Linked DNA regions of Homo sapiens: all the other regions are reported to be linked to region 1. The links are microRNA targets in miRTarBase. Many come from high-throughput screens and were not tested one by one. Region 1 holds a microRNA gene; each other region holds the end of a gene's coding sequence.

What was found. Region 1 holds the annotated microRNA hsa-miR-7850-5p (GUUUGGACAUAGUGUGGCUGG, at 2,414-2,434, opposite strand). A microRNA usually pairs through its seed, bases 2 to 8, with sites in the 3' UTR of a target mRNA and lowers its output. Matches are read on the target gene's strand: a 7mer-m8 pairs with bases 2 to 8, a 7mer-A1 pairs with bases 2 to 7 and ends in A, and an 8mer does both.
Region 2: miRTarBase lists TRABD2A as a target of hsa-miR-7850-5p. The part of its 3' UTR that is shown has no 7-base or 8-base seed match.
Region 3: miRTarBase lists RBMXL1 as a target of hsa-miR-7850-5p. Seed matches in the 3' UTR shown: 7mer-A1 at 2,401-2,407.

What each region holds. Positions count from the first base shown.
Region 1 is chr19:2,627,932-2,633,156 of GRCh38, reverse strand. It overlaps MIR7850 (microRNA 7850), which reads right to left and starts at 2,442; the gene lies at 2,364-2,442. The region is part of intron 2 of GNG7 (G protein subunit gamma 7); the gene reads left to right. RefSeq lists an enhancer at 4,977-5,225.
Region 2 is chr2:84,817,467-84,822,691 of GRCh38, reverse strand. TRABD2A (TraB domain containing 2A) reads left to right here. Exons shown (of 7, transcript NM_001277053.2): 7 at 592-1,026. The coding sequence ends at 775. DNAH6 (dynein axonemal heavy chain 6) reads right to left here. Exons shown (of 77, transcript NM_001370.2): 77 at 3,103-3,387. The coding sequence ends at 3,284. Among named protein-coding and RNA genes, the nearest start is that of TRABD2A, 61 kb to the left of the region's middle. RefSeq lists a silencer at 5,092-5,225.
Region 3 is chr1:88,978,018-88,983,242 of GRCh38, forward strand. It overlaps RBMXL1 (RBMX like 1), which reads right to left. Exons shown (of 3, transcript NM_001162536.3): 3 at 1,439-5,225. The coding sequence ends at 4,637. The region is part of intron 2 of KYAT3 (kynurenine aminotransferase 3); the gene reads right to left. Among named protein-coding and RNA genes, the nearest start is that of KYAT3, 12 kb to the right of the region's middle.

The DNA of each region.
Region 1 (5,225 bases):
CGTTTTAGTGAACCAGCACCCACCTGCAGGGCCCCTGCCAGGCTAACACCCTCGGATCTCTGCGCAGACACTCCCGGTGCCGCCTGGGGATGCGTGTCATAGATGGTTAAGGTGCAGCCTGGGGAGGCCCAAGGTGGGGTCTGTTGAGAAGTTAGGGGCCTGGTAGAGGGGCCCCCTGTCCCACCAGCAGGGTTCAAGGGGCTGAGGGCTCCTGAGCAGACATGGGCCAGGCAGAGGCCCAGGCGGGTGCCCCAGTGCAGAGCCCACTGTGGCTGGATGAGCCTCGTAATGACTTCATGTTAGAGCCTCAGCTTTACTTATTTATTATTTTTATCGGACATGGATCTGAATTATTATTCTTATATTCTTGTTATTATTATTATTTTAGAGTCAGAGTCTCACTCTGTTGCCCAGGTGCGAGTGCAGTGGTGCGATCATAGCTCAGTGTAACTAAGGGGTGCTCCTGGCAGGGAGTGGGTGGAGGCCAGGGACTCTGCTCAGCACCCTGCAGTGCCAGGGCAGCCTCACCCCAGAGATGGATCCAGTCCCGATGTCCACAGTGCTGACGGTGAGAGACTTCCCTGTAGAGTAGAAAGTCTCTGTTCGTCAGCTGTTTTTACAATTCCCAGTCTGTTTTCTGTGTGCGTGTGTGTGTGTGTGTGTGTGTGTGTGTGTGTGTGTGAGTTTTGTTTATAGCAGGTTGGGTTTTTTTGTTTTTTTTTTTTTTGAGATGGAGTTTCACTCTTGTCTCCCAGGCTAGAATGCAATAGCATAATCTCGGCTCACTGCAACCTCCACCTCCCGGGTTCAAGCAATTCTCCTGCCTCAGCCTCCCAAGTAGCTGGGATTACAGGTGCCTGACACCACGCCTGGCTAATTTTTGTATTTTTAGTAGAGACGGGTTTCACCATGTTGGTCAGGCTGGTCTCGAACTCCTGACCTCAAGTGATCCACCTGCCTCTGCCTCCCAAAGTGCTGGGATTACAGGCATGATCCCACACAGCGCCAGGCCAGGAGTCTTACCTTTCTAGGAGGCAGAGTTTATCTGTTCTTTTGGGGCTCCTTTCTCTAGAGAATGGGGGAGAGGGCAGCACCAGGGTGATGATGTCCCCGCAGAACAGGCCGTCACGGGATTAGCCTAGTCGATGCTAGTTGTCCTTATTGGAGATCTTGGGGAGACGCCCTGAAAATGCTGTAGTCTGCCTTGGCTGGTTCAACGTCCTTTCACCCCTTTTCTCTCTTCCTCTTTCAGAAATGGCACTTCTAGGGTCAGTCGGCTTCATTTTAGAAGTTAGCAAAAGAAGGAAAAAACTGCTAAAGCCGGGGTCGAAAACTGTGGCCCCCAGGCCAAGTCCCCCATCTAGTTCCTGTTTTTATAAATAAAGTTTTATTGGCATACAGCCACAGACATGCTGTGCCCCCACCCCAGGCCCAGTCTGGCCCTCCACTTCCTGTTTTTATAAATGAAGTTTTATTGGCACACAGCCACAGACAAACTGCAGCTCCCTGGGCCAAGTTCCCCCCTCCACTCCCTGTTTGTATAAATAAAGTTTTATTGGCACACAGCCACAGACATACTGCAGGTCCCTGGGCCAAGTTCTCTGTTCCACTTCCTGTTTTTATGAATAAAGTTTTATTGGCACACGGCCACAGACATTCATTTACCTGTCATCAGTGACTGCTTTCATACTACAAGGACAGAGCTCAGTGGCCTTTTGCAGAAAAGGTTTGCTGACCCTCAGCCTAGAGGCCTTGAGTTATCTGATTTCATCTCATAACCACTCGTGAGGAAAGAATGATCGTCACTGGACAGATAAGGATGCTGAGACCTAGCGAGGTTAAGTGGCTTCATGAGGTGACATAACCAGCAGTTTAGGGCTTGGGCTCCCAACTCTGCCACCTACTGGCTCTGTGACCCTGGGCCATCTCTGTGCTTTTCTGAACCTCAATGCCCTCGTCTGTGAAAGGGGGGAGAATAGGCAGTGCCTGCCTCTCAAGGGGTTAATGCATGTCAAGCTGTCTAATACTAAATGCACCATTCTTCCTCTGGTCTTCATGCCTGCTATGCCTCCTCAGCCCCACACAGTGCTGTTGAGACAATCAGATAATGTCATAGTCATTAGACCTTTTTGATGATATACTCAGACATACTCAGGAGGAAACTGCTGAGTTGCTTGGCTGATTGTGGAGGGACATGATGTCCAAACCCTTGTGTATGAATAAGTTTGAAAGCTGACCATAAAATCCCAGAATGCTCTAGTCTGCAGCACATAAAGAGTGTATTAGCTAGCTATGGCTGCGTAACAACTACCATGAATGCAGTAGCTTAGAGTGACACCCATTTATTATCTCATGGTTCCATAGGTCAGAAGTTTGGATGTAGTGTGGCTGGGTAAGACCCTGCACAGAGGACCCAGCCACACTATGTCCAAACTTCTGACCTCGGAGATGTGAGCCAGGGCTGCATTCTCATCCGAAGGTTTGTGTGGTGACGGATCCCCTTCCAAGCTCATTCCAGGCTCATTCAGAATTCAGTTCTTTGTGGTTGATAGACTGTTTCTGTTGCGTTGTTAGCTGTCAGGAGGGGGCAACTCTCAGCTCTTTGAGGCCACTCTCAGGCCACTTGGCCTTCTCCATAGGCCCCTCATGCTTCCAGGCTCTCATTTCAGGAAAGGCCCAATCCCTTTTAAAGGGTCACCTGATTAGACCAGGCCCACCTAGGATAATCGCCCTTTCAGTGAACTCAAGGTCAACTGATTTAGGACCTTATTTACCTCTTCAAAATCCCTTCTTTCCTGAAAAGCAACCTAATCAGGGGAGTGATATCTCATCATGTCCACGGGCCCTGCCCACACTCAAGGGGAGGGGGTTCTACAAGATATGTTCTCCAGGGAGATCTTAGACTCCTCTTGGTGGCAAAGGGAAGGGGGGGCCTGCGTTCGGCCTCAGCCAGGACCGAATCAGCAGGACCTTCACTCCCTTTTTCTGGCGTCCATCCCTTCCTCTTGCAGGAGTACTGCCAGGTCTTTGGGGAGAGGGTGGGGGTTATTGGGAGAAAGGAGGCATTTGGAAAGTAGGTGGCAGGCTGTGTCCCAGTTACACCTAAATGTGTCTCCACTTATTAAAAAAAAAAAACAACCTTTATTTTGAAATCATTACAGATTCAGAGGAAGTTGCAAAAATCACACAGAGCAAAAAACATCACATGTATCTTCACAGTTTCCCCCAGTGGTGACATCTTACGTAACCATAGTACAAAACCAGGAAATGGACCCTGGCACCATGTATGTGCAAAGCTCTGTGCCCTTTCGCACACATGCAGACTCGGCTTCACCTTATTTATGGGTGTGCAGGAACATTAAGTGTCCATAAATGTGGACGGAGCTCCTCTTACTCGTGGGCATGGGGTCAGAGGGAGGCGGGAGTACAACCAAACAAAACCATCTAGACTTTGACCGTTGATGTGGGTGCCAGGTTCCAATCACCGTGTGCCCCCACACTGCGTTCAGGGCTACGCTCTTCTGTCTTCTCCCACTAGTCTGTGAGTCTGTGAGGTCTTGTCCACTACCTCTTTAGGCAGCCAGCCCTTCTGGTGGGCTTTGTCGTGGGGAGGGGGTGGCACTAGGTGTGTTCTGGGGCTCCTAGCACTAGAAGACTTGTTTCAAATCCAGAAGCACCTCCTATTCGTGTGGGCGCCCAGGCAACTTACCTGACCCGTCTGTGACTCTGTGTCCTTGGGGACCTCCTATTCTAAACACAAGAGCGTGGCCTGCTGTCACCGTCACCATCCTGGCATCTGCAGAAGAGCCACCAAGCGCTGCCTCCTGAGAATTTCTGGAAGGAGGAGATGACTGGTAGAGTGGAAAGTTATTGAAAGGGACATTTGGAGTTCTTTCCAAGGGACATAACCCATCTCCCAATATCCCCTATCCATTTGCTCAACCTTCAGAGAGACCTACTAAGATATCCAGTTGTTCACCTCAAGTCTTCAACTTTCCCCAAAGTTCTTTGCTGTTTTCTCTGTGCCTTGCACAGAGCCTGATGCATAGTACGTGCTCCTTGGGGGCCACTTTGTGTGTGTTTCCTACTAATGGCACCTACAGCAGCAATGGCCACCATGTCTTTTACAGCTACAGTCCTAGGCAGAATTCCAAGATGGCGCCCAAGACCCCCACCGCCTGGTGCCCACATCTTATCTAATCCCCTGCACTTGAGGATGGGCTGGACCTGCGAATACGATGGGGTGTCACTCCAGTGGTTAGGTTAATGCAGTTAGGTCGTGTGTTCGGTAAAGGGATTTTGCAGATGCGACGAAGATTCCTAGTCAGTTGACCTGAGCTCATCAAAAAGGAGACATCCTGGGTGGGCCTGACCTCATCAGGTGAGCCCATAAAAGAGACCAGAAGCACATCCCGAGGTGTCAAATTCAGAGAGACAGAAGGGAGAATGGTGGGTGCTAGGGGCTGGGGGAGGGAAGAGGGGAGCTGTTGTTCAGTGGATACAGTGTCTCAGTTTTACAAGATGGAAGGTTCTGGAGAGCCATTGCACAGCAGTGTGAGTATACTTAACATCACTGAACCGTACACATAAACGTGGTTAAGATGATCCGTCTTATGTTATATATATATATACACACACACACACACACCACAGTTGAAAGAAAGAGAGAAAGGGAAGGGGTTTCTTGCCTTAAAGAAAGCAAACAGCTATGTCGTGAGCTGCCTGTGGAGGGTCCATGTGGCAGACACCTGAGAGTAGCCTCTAGGGGCTCAGAGCACTCACATCCAACAGCCAGTAGGTAAACAGGGACCTCATTCCTAGAGCTGCAAGGAAATGAATTCTGCCGATAACCAAACTAGCTCAGAAGAGGACCCCAAATTCCAGATGACAACTCGGCCCAGCCCATACCTTGATTTTAGGCTTATAAGACTCTGAGCGGGGGACCCAGTTAAGCCAGACTCTTGACACACAGAAGTTGTGAGATGGCAAATGGTGTCTTTGTTGCCGCTGTTGTTACTCAGCAGTAGCTGACTCATACACTTGCCGTGTTGTTTGCCATGTTGAGATTGAGATAATGATCTCCACTTCACATAGGAGAAAACAGTAGCTGAGAGGGGCTGACGTGCCCAGGGTCACATGGCAACTGTGTTGTGATCATCACATTAACTGTGCCTGTCACCTGGGCCGGACCGTCACCTCCTTCATTAAGATCAGGGATCTGGTCC
Region 2 (5,225 bases), not on the chromosome of region 1:
CAGAGGAATAAATTGACCTGTTTAGTACTTTTTCAAACAAGGCCATTGGTGACTACGGGGTTGGGCACTTTATACCTCAGCTGAGTTGAAAGATCTGGGTAAGCCTGAGGTCATGGGCCCCTCAGCTTGAACTGTCTTGACCTGGTATGCCTATATGCTGTGCACATCAGGCCTGGACTTGGGCAGATGAGAGAGGCAGAGACCCAGGGAGGAATCTGCATGGTCTGGCTCTGCCTCTGTGGTGGCCAGTGAGGAGGGTCCCTGCCTAAGATTGCCCAGAGACTAATGTTAGCAAACTTTGAATTCGGCCTTATACGAAGACTTTCACTAATCTTTGAATAAAGAGCCAAATAGCCAGGGACAGTTAGCCAGTCTGCTGGTCTTAATATCCTCTGCCATTTGGTTTTCTGGTAGCAGTGGCCAAAGACATGAAAGAGGGCCAGAGATATAGGAAGCCTATTAATATACTAATACCCATTCCTGTCTATAAGGAGGGGAGATGAAGAGAAGCTGTGTGGGCATTTGGGGGCCTTGGCGTGTGCAGTGGTTTCTGCTGTGACTTCAGACTCTGTCTTTCTCTTTGCCTCCTAGTGACATAGTCCCGCAACTCCAGGTCCCTGTCCTGGACAGGCACATCTCCACTGAACTGCGGCTCCCTCGCCGTGGGCATTCCCACCACAGCCAGATGGTGGCCAGCAGTGCCTGCCTGTCTCTCTGGACTCCTGTGTTCTGGGTGCTGGTGCTGGCTTTCCAAACAGAGACACCCCTCCTGTAACGACTGGAAGCACCAGGCTAAGAACCTGACCCCTCGGACTTGAAGAATGGCCATTCCTGTACTCCACATTCTGGTCTAGCCTTGTTGGGCCCAATCCAGAAGAGACTGCTCTTGAAAAAGCGGCCCAGTGTTGATTCTTCTCTTTCCAAGGAATGTGACTTTGGGTTATCCAACTTTGGGGGCAGGTGTACAGTTTTGTAACATAGTGAGTTGTGTGAAAATAAATTATAAATGAGTTGTATGAAAATAAATACCTTTTTTTGTATAGATTTTTATTCATGATATATATATATATCAGGCAGACAACTTCTTCTCTCACACCCTCTGAATCCTTCCACTGCCTCCCCCTAGGCCCTGCACTTCTCAGCTGCAGCTCTGATCCCTTCAGGCCCTGGCTTTGTATCCTGACCCTTTCTTCTTTCCACTCTCTTTCTTTGTGTCACTCTTGGTTCTGGATGCAGGGGAGTCAGTGGGCCACGGAACTTGTGGTCTGCACCTCTCTATTCAAGCTCTGGTGAATAGGGTGCTCCCTGTGTCCTGAGAGATGCTTTTATTTTGTATAATGTGTGTGTCTCACTGACATGCTGGAGGCTGGGTGGGGGGGTTGGGGGGCGTGGGTAGGCTTTGTCAGAGGTGCTGTGCAAGAAAGTGGTTTTCAAACTACCCCCAATCCCCATTTTGTTATTTATTATTTACATGTTTATTGTCAATGTCTTTTCTAAATACAAATCTTATTGGGACTCTATAAAATGTGTAAGAGTAGAACTTCCCCAGTTGAATCTGAAATGGGAGCTTTTAACCCTGCCCAGGTGATCTCCCTCCCCTAACCACCATGGTTCCAGATCAGGGTCTCCCACCTGTGGCAAGTGTCCTTTATGGTCCTGGGCCTCTGAATAGCCCATAAAAACCCTGGGTAGAAGGTCTGTCCAGGACTTGGGTGGGGTCAATAAGAAGTAGTTGTATTTGTCCCCTAATCTGGCTTAGGGTAAGGCTGATTGCCTGGGTTTGTAGCTCTGGCTTCCCTTCCTTTTCTGAGGCTTTTGTGGGTTCATGTTCAGTTATTTCTAGGGCCCAGAAGATCTCAGTGGCCTTACTAAAACGGTGTGATGGCACTCAGGACCCATGTCCACCACTTTGGTTCCATTCTGCACCACCTGTATTGCAGGCGTAGGCGGGCAAAAACTCCCAAATCCCCTCGCTGCTATGTTCGATTCTCCTAATGAGATACACTCATGGGATATTTGGAAAACAAAAGTGGGCAGAGGGAATTTTTCTTGAGCAGGGGGCGTGGTTATGTGCAGGCTTCAGCAGACACAAGTTTGTGCAGTAGCCAGTCTCTGCAGCCCCCTCTATTCCCCTGCTTCAGCGTGAAGTAGCTGTGAGGTTGGCATAATTTTTCCTTCAGGGTTCCCACCTTGGAGTACAGATGCTGTGATGCCTGATATCAACTCTTTGACTTCTGCAGTGGCAGCCATTCCTGTGCCCATGTTAGTACCTATTTCTGCTTGAAACACCAAGAGTAGTTTCTGATTTGTGCACTGATTTCTGGTAAAAGTGGTGTTCCCTGCTTCTCTGCGACTTGAGTCTGCTCTTAACTTCGATAGGTATGGGGATGAAGTGGGGAGGCAGAGATAAACTGGGAGGGTAGGATCACTGTGGCTGACTCTGTTCCTCCAATTCTTTGTAAGAGGGTGGTATGGCTCCTACCAAGGGCTCAATCCTAGCTGGGTGATTTCCTTGTTTCTTGGGTCACATTATGGCCGAGGAAGCAGGCAGACCATTATTGGCAGGACTGACACAAGATGGTTTGTCACAGTGGCTGCTCCATTTGAGAACTGACCCACCAACCTCTGCTTTTGAGGTGGCAGAGGCTCAAATGCACCTGGCTGGGACTTGGTTAGTTTTCACACAGATTCATCCTAAAGTGGAAGGGGAAAATCCTCCGTACTTGGGCAGGATTGGCCTGCCCTTTTGTGAAAGCACAGGCTCTTCCAAGGATTGTGATGAAGCCCCACAGAACAGGGAACTGACATCATAGGCCAACTTCTTCTTATCCTGCTCATTTGCTCTACCAGTTGTGCTCACTGCATCAACCTCCCATGCACTGGACTCTGAGAGCCTTCATCTTGTCTAGAAATGGAAGCACCTGGGGCCTTTCATATCAGGGTGAAGAGGAAAGGAGCCTGTGAGGGGAAGCGAGTGCTGAGTCCTTACTCTTCCTGGGGGTCCCAGAAAGTAACTGATGGGAAGCTGCCTCTCACTTAGGGTGGGGGAGCAGGCTTAACAGGTGGGTTGTTGAACCCACTGCTTCTACAGCAGAGCTTGGATTGCCAACAGAAAGAACTCAAACACTTTATTTTAAGGTCATAAGAGAAATAAAAGTCACAATACGTTTAAGTCAAATCAGAATTAACACCGTTTTGCTCACATATAAATTATTCAAACCTTTTGCTCCCATTAGGAAAGATCTCTGGCCTGGTTCTTTTTCAGGGCTGAGGTGGCACCTTTTCATTCGCTCAGCTGGCAGAGCAAAGCTGATCCCTTGGCAATCCAGTAGTCTTTGGACCGCTTGGAGGGTAACAGGACGGTTACCACAAAATTGGTTGAATGTCCTAATTAAGGATATAGGAAAAAAAGGTTGTTACTTAAGAGAATAACTTCCTCATACAAAGAGAGAGGCTACAAAGAGTCAAGACATCTGGGTTCCAGGCCTGACTTGCCCCTAAAGATGCTGGACAAATAGTCCTTTATGGGTCTGTTTTATGCTCTATAAAATGAAGATTTTAGAACAAATAATTCTTTAGGACTTGTCCAGCTTAGACTTCATAGAATTTTTTTTTTCGAGACAGGGTCTCACTCTATCACCCAGGCTGGAAGTGTAGTGGCGTGATCTCAGCTTGCTGCAACCTCTGCCCTCCTGGGTTCAAGTGATTCTCCTACCTCAGCCTCTTGAGTAGCTGGGACTATAGGTGCGTACCACCATGCCTGGCTAATTTTTGTATTTTTAGTAGAGGCGGGGTTTCACCAGTTGGCTAGGCTGGTCTCAAACTCTTGGCCTCAAATGATCCGCTTGCCTTGGCCTCCCAAAGTGCTGGGATTACAGGCATGAGCCACTGCACCCAGCCTAATAATTTCTTAATAACCAGGATTCAAATGAGTTTCATATCTTGCAACAGTGATGTGTCTCTTAAATCTTTCAATTGGTAGGTTTCCCTCTGCTTCTTTTGCCGCCCCCTTGTAATATATTTGTTGAAACAACCAGACTGTTTGTCCTGTTAAGTTTCCCAGAATCTGGATTTTATGACAGCACTGCTGTGGTGATTTTAAATATATTCCTCTCTTCCTGTAAGGGGTGGTTAGATCTAGAGGCGTGACTACATTCAGGTTTGAGGTTTTTTTTCCCTTTTTTTTTTTTTTTTTTTTTTTTTTTTTGAGATAGGGTCTCATTCTTTTGCCCAGGCTGGAGTGCAGTGGTTTGATTATGGCTAACTGCAGACTTGAACTGGACTCAAGCGATCCTCCTGCCTCAGTCTCCCAAGCGGCTGGGACTACAGGCGTGTGCACCACACCTTGCTAATTTTTGTATTTTTTGTAGAGACGGGGTCTCGTCATCTTGCCCAGGCTGGCAGGTTTGAGTTTTATGGCAAGAATAATTCTTAGGTAGTAGGTACTTCTATCAGGAAGCACATTATGTCTGATTGTCTTTCTTTTTTGGGATATTAGTGGCCATTGATGACTACTACATAGGACTACCCCTCTTTTAAATAGCTGAAAAAGAGTTTCTTTTGATCCTTGTACAAGATGGGGTTTCTGTCACAGTTTCAGATAATGTTAGTTTGTTGGTCCCCTCTCCTTACTGATTTGTAAGAATTCTTTATGCCAGGCTTCTATAGTTTGGATGTTTGATCCCTCCAAATCTCATGTTGAAATTTGATCCCCAATGTTGGAGATGGGGCTTAATGGAAGGTGTTTGGCTGATGGGGGTCAGATCCCTGATGAGTAGATTAATACTCCTTGGAATGGGGGGTGAGCTGTCACTTTATTAGTTCTTGCGAGAGCTGCTTGTTAAAGAGTCTGGCGCCTCCCTCCCATCTTGCCTACTTCCTCTCTTGCCATGGGACCTCTAAACACCAGCTCCCTTTTGTCTTCTGCTATGAGTGGAAGCATCCTGAGGCTCTCACCAGAAGCAGATGCTGGCACCAGCCTGCAGAACCATGAGCCAAATAAACTTTTCTTTAAAGTTACTCAGCCTCAGGTATTCCTTTATAGCAACACAAACACAAACAAAGACAGTTGGATTTTTTTTTTTTAATTGAGATGGGGGTTTCACTATGTTGCCCAGGCTGGTGTTGAACTCTTGGGCTCAAGTGATCCTCCCACCTTAGCCTCCTGAGTAGCTGGGACTACAGACACATGATACCACACCTGGCTAGACAGCTGGATTGTTTTC
Region 3 (5,225 bases), not on the chromosome of region 1:
TCCCAGTTTTTAAGTGAAGCATAACTCTATTGTATATAGATATGTATGTATATAATATATACACATATGTATATATGTATATAATATACACATGTATGTATATGTTATGTATATTTTGATGTTCCAACCATCACAGTGATGACATTTAGTATTAATTCATTCCTTAGCACTTGTACCACTTCCTAAGTGTCTTTGTTTAAACACAGATCTTAAAAAGAAACTGTTATGTTCTTTCCTAGCTTTTTTGCTTTTTCTTTCCTGCTATAAAATTGTGTTGGCTGCTCATGCTTCTTTGAGATTTTATTTCTTCTCCGGGTGGAGTTGTGGTGTCTTTTTTTTTTGAGACAGGGTCTCGCTCTGTCACCCAGGCTGTGGCAGTGCCACCATCATGGCTCACTGCAGCCTCAACCTCCTGGCTAAGGTGATCTCCACCTCAGCCTCCCAAGTAGCTGGGATGACATATGTGTGCCAGTATGCCTGGTTAACTTTAATTTTTTTGAGACAGAGTCTTGCTCTGTTGCTCAGGCTGGAGTGCAGTGGTGCAATCATGGCTCACTGCAACCTCACCTGCCCAAGTTGAAGTCATCCTCCCACCCCAGCCTCCTGAGTAGCTGGGACTACAGGTATGTGGCACCACACCTGGCTAATTTTGTTCTTAATTTTTTTTTTTTTTGGTAGAGATAGAATATTGCTATGTTGCCCAGGCTGGTCTCAAACTCCTGGGTTCAAGTGATCCTCCTGTCTTGGCCTCTCAAAGTGCTGGGATTATTGGTGTGAGCCTCCATGCCCGGCCTTAATTTTTTTTTTTTTCAAACATTCATTTGTAGAGAGGGTCTTGCTTTGCCCATGCTGGACTCGAACTCCTGGCTTCACACAATCCTCTTGCCTTGGCCTCTCAAAGTGCTGGGATTGCAGGCATGAGCCACCACACCTGGTGGAGTTGTGATTTTTGCTAAAGGGCAGAGTACATGCTTCAGATTGAACAGTGGGGAAGAGACAAGTGCATAAGATGCCTTAGAAGCTCCGAAGCTATAGTAATCAGATCTCTTAGTTATGTGAGAGAAACTCAATCTGAAACAGTTTAGATGAAAAGGGAGAATTCATTAGAAAGGTCATGTTACCATGGGAAAGGCAGAGGTCCAGCCAGACTGAATGGTAACAGAAACCAGGAACTTGAACATCACAGGGCTTTGCTTCATCTCCATTTGTACCCATTATCTCAGTTTGCATTTCTTTACTTGAGACTAAACAGAGTCACATCTCCCACCTTCATGGCCATAGAGGGACTGAGAGATGAACACTCAAAAAATGTTAATTATTATTAAGGCTTGACTTAAAAAAACTATAAGATCTATATATCATTCAGTGGGCTCAAGTATCTCTTAAAAAGTTGCCAGATTCTGAGCCATATAATGAAAGAAAAGTATTTACGAACATGTGTCTTACAAAGGACTTTAATACAGTATATATAAAGAACTTTTACAACTCAATAAGACAAACAATCCAATTAAAAGTGGGCAAAAGATTTGACAGCCACTTCACAGAAAATATACAACTGGCCAAAAAGTACCTTAAAAGATGCTTACCAGCATTAGTCACCCGGGGAAATGAAAATAAAACCACAATGAGATACCACTAGATTCCCATCAGAATGGCTGAAAACTGAGTGTTGGCAGTTGGAACTCTATACAACCCTGGTGGGAATATAAAAGGGTATAGCCCCTTTGGAAAACAAACAGTTTGGCAGTTACTTTATTAAACATAAATCTGCCATGCAACCCAACCATTTTACTGGTAGGTATTTACCCAAGAGAAAGGAAAACCTATGTCTACACAGTGGCTTGTACACAAATGTTCCTAACAGTTTTATTCACAGTAGCCCCAAACTGGAAACAATCCCAAGGTCCATCAACAGGTGAGTAGAAAAACAAATAATGGCATATTCACATAATGGGACACTACTCAGCAATAAAAGGAATAAGCTACTGATACACTGCAACCTGGTGAATTTCAAAGTCATTGTGTGTGAAAGAAACCATAAACAAAAAAGTACATGCTACACAATCCCATTTATATAAAATACTAAACACCACCACAAAGCAAACTAATATATGGTGACAAAGACAAATCAGCAGCGTGAGGGATGGACTGCAAAGGAACTTGAGGAATCTTTTGGGGGCGATGGAAGTGTTCTGCATGTTGATGGTGACAGTGGCTTCATGGCATATACATCTGTCAAAATAACCATTGAGTTGTAATTCTAAACAGATACAGTTTACTGTAACTTGATAAAGCTGAATTTAAAAAGCTGCCAGAGTATTCTGAAATCATGCCTTCTTTTCTCCCTCTGGACCAAGCACCCGCCCAAGCAAGCCAACTTTAACAAAATTATCTCATAGATTTTGGATTTTTTTTTTTTTTGCCATGTTAAAGTTGTATTAAGTTTCAATACAAAACATTCCAAAAAGTGAAAAGTGATCTATAATACCCAAGTTCTATGTTCAACTACCACTTAAACAAGGAAAACATTTTCTAATATCATTCTGTTTTACAACCAGTATAAACCCAGAAGAATCAAGATCTGATTCTTTTTCCACACGTCTGCTAGTTCAGTAAACTATTTATCAAACAGGTGTCTGGTCATTTTAACATACTCCTTGCTTTGAACAATATTCATTCATATTTGGTACAAACTCTATATCCTATATTTAGGATATCTAAATATTTTAAATATTTAGGATATCTTAAGAGCCAAAAGGTCCTCACAGAAGCTTTAACCCAAGTAATCATAAGAATATGGAAGGATTCGGCTAAGACAACTATGGAAGTGTAACAACCACATAAATTTGGTCATTACCCTTGTGGTCTGTGATTAGTAGTAGTCTGCCAAATGAGAGTTAAAAATGTTGTACTTACTATCCCTAGTTGCAAATGTTAAAACATGACAGTGCCATAATTACAACAAAAAAAATTAGAAGTTGAGTTAGTTCCTCTAATCCAACAACTCAAGTCTGTTTCCTTTGAGAACATTACACTATTGGCTCTAGTCTCCAAAGCAATAAACTAAAACTTGTTTCCAAGACGGGGAGGTAAAGCAGGCTTATAAAACAATACAGCAAAAGAAAGCCAAGTGGCCCAATTGTTTCCAGTGTGTTTGCCATCTTAGCATGGTTGTTACTTTCCAGATGTCACTCATAAGTTTTATTCTACAACTAAACTGTTTGTGGATAAGCCACCACAAAAAAATGTTTCACTTACTGACAAGACACTTCACCAGATAGAGCTACCACTTATATCCATCATTTTTATAATTCATCTTAAGTTCTAAATTGAAGAGTTGTCCCCATGACTTTAGCTAAACAAAATGAAACCCAAAGCTGTAAAATCTGTGTAAAGGACCACGAGAACCTCCTGACTACCTCCACTTACCAATTTCCTTAATTACTTCCCCTTTTCCATTTGGTCAATTACTTAAGTAACTACCACTCACTCCCTAGTTATGAGTGTTAATCAACACTGATGCCTTCCTGAGATCCACAGGAACCCTTGAAGGCAAAATCTATTGCCTGCACCAAACCAATTCTGACAGCACTGCTTATGCAACTGCACTGACTTACCAACAATCAGCCGCCTTCTGCTTCAACAACTCTTAGCATTTGATTTCTCTTACTGCCAGCGTTATCTACTGTGAATCAATCAGCACTCCACAAACATAATGAGCACAATCTTCAACCATCTTTGCTGTTTCACAGGCATTTGATGCTTTAAATCTGATGTGGAATGCTGATAGATTCACTTTTTAGAAGTCATAAGCCTTTAGGAAGTTGGAGATAAATTCATTGCTTATCTATTTTCTCCTTTGCAATCAAGCTGTTCCTTTAAAAGTGAGACATTAGAGTTGCAAAAATTTGAAAGAGTAAGAGCAAGCACCTTTGCAGCTTCATGGTTGGTTTTGGCCAAACTTTTTATTTAGTATTCCGTAGTTGTTTAGCACACACTTAAATGGTCTTATTGTGGGAGGGGAAAGGGGAGGTTCTTGCAGATTCCCAAGGAAATGTCAGAAAGGCAAAATGGCCAGCATTATCCATTTGCTTTTTTTGGGTTTACTGGGTGAATAGCACTTTCCTTACATAGGCATCTGATTTCAGGTTTTGCATACTGAGAACAGTGAGATTTCAGTTAGAAAACACCCTGAAATCTTATGAGTAGCATACTCCAACCACCCTCTAATAGCTAGCTTGTTTGTATAGGCAGAATGATTCATCTCTCCATTTTAGTTGGCTAGATGTTTTGTGGAAGATCTTAGAATTGCTTGCCTCATTTACTGGGAAAAACCAGATAGGAAGTGGTCTTTAGGGACACCTTTACTTGGAAAGTTACAACACTAGTACTACAAGGCTTAACACATTTAACATTTGCTTGTTGAAAAGCAATGTCATAAAGTCAAATAAAATTAAACATGTTTTACTTTTTTCCTCACAAGAACATAAAAATTACGGAAGGGACTTAACAGGGAATTTAAAAAAGGTAACACAATTTTTCCTTTTAGTAGTCCTTGGGTAGTTATGATAGAATAGTTTCCACTCTTTTTTTTGTTTCTTTGAACTGGGATTTTGGTCCAAAGTTTTGTTTGTTTCTAGTATCTGCTTCTGCCTCCCCCTCTATCAGATCGGCTTCCTCCAGGGCCAGCACCTCTTGGTGCTCCGCGGCTTGAACTGCTGTAGGAATCACGTGAAGAAGGGTACCCCCTTTCTACAGAAGGGGGAAGCCCTCTTTCTTGTCTGCCAACCCTGTCACAACTTGAGTAGAGATCACTTCGGCTGCTTGAGTAACTGTCTCGACTTCCACCATATCCATCACGTGAGCTGCTATAATCATCATAGCGACTGCTTCCACCATAAGATGGCGGGGGCCCTCGTGTAAGTGGAGCACTACGTGAGTTACCATAACTCTCATATGAATCTCTGTAGGAACCTCCACTTGGATGATCTGAATAGTCACGATCACGACCATATCCATCTCTATCGCCATAGCCTCTTGATGGATAGTCATCACGTGAACTGGAATGACCATAATCACGGTAAGTATAATCTCGTGGTGGTGGTGCATAATCTCTTGTATCACGAGAACTTGGGTAATCTCTGCTTGAATAGCTGTCTTTAGTAGAATACCCATCATCTCTTGGGGACAAATAAACATCTCTACGAGAGGGGAGCGGTTCCCTT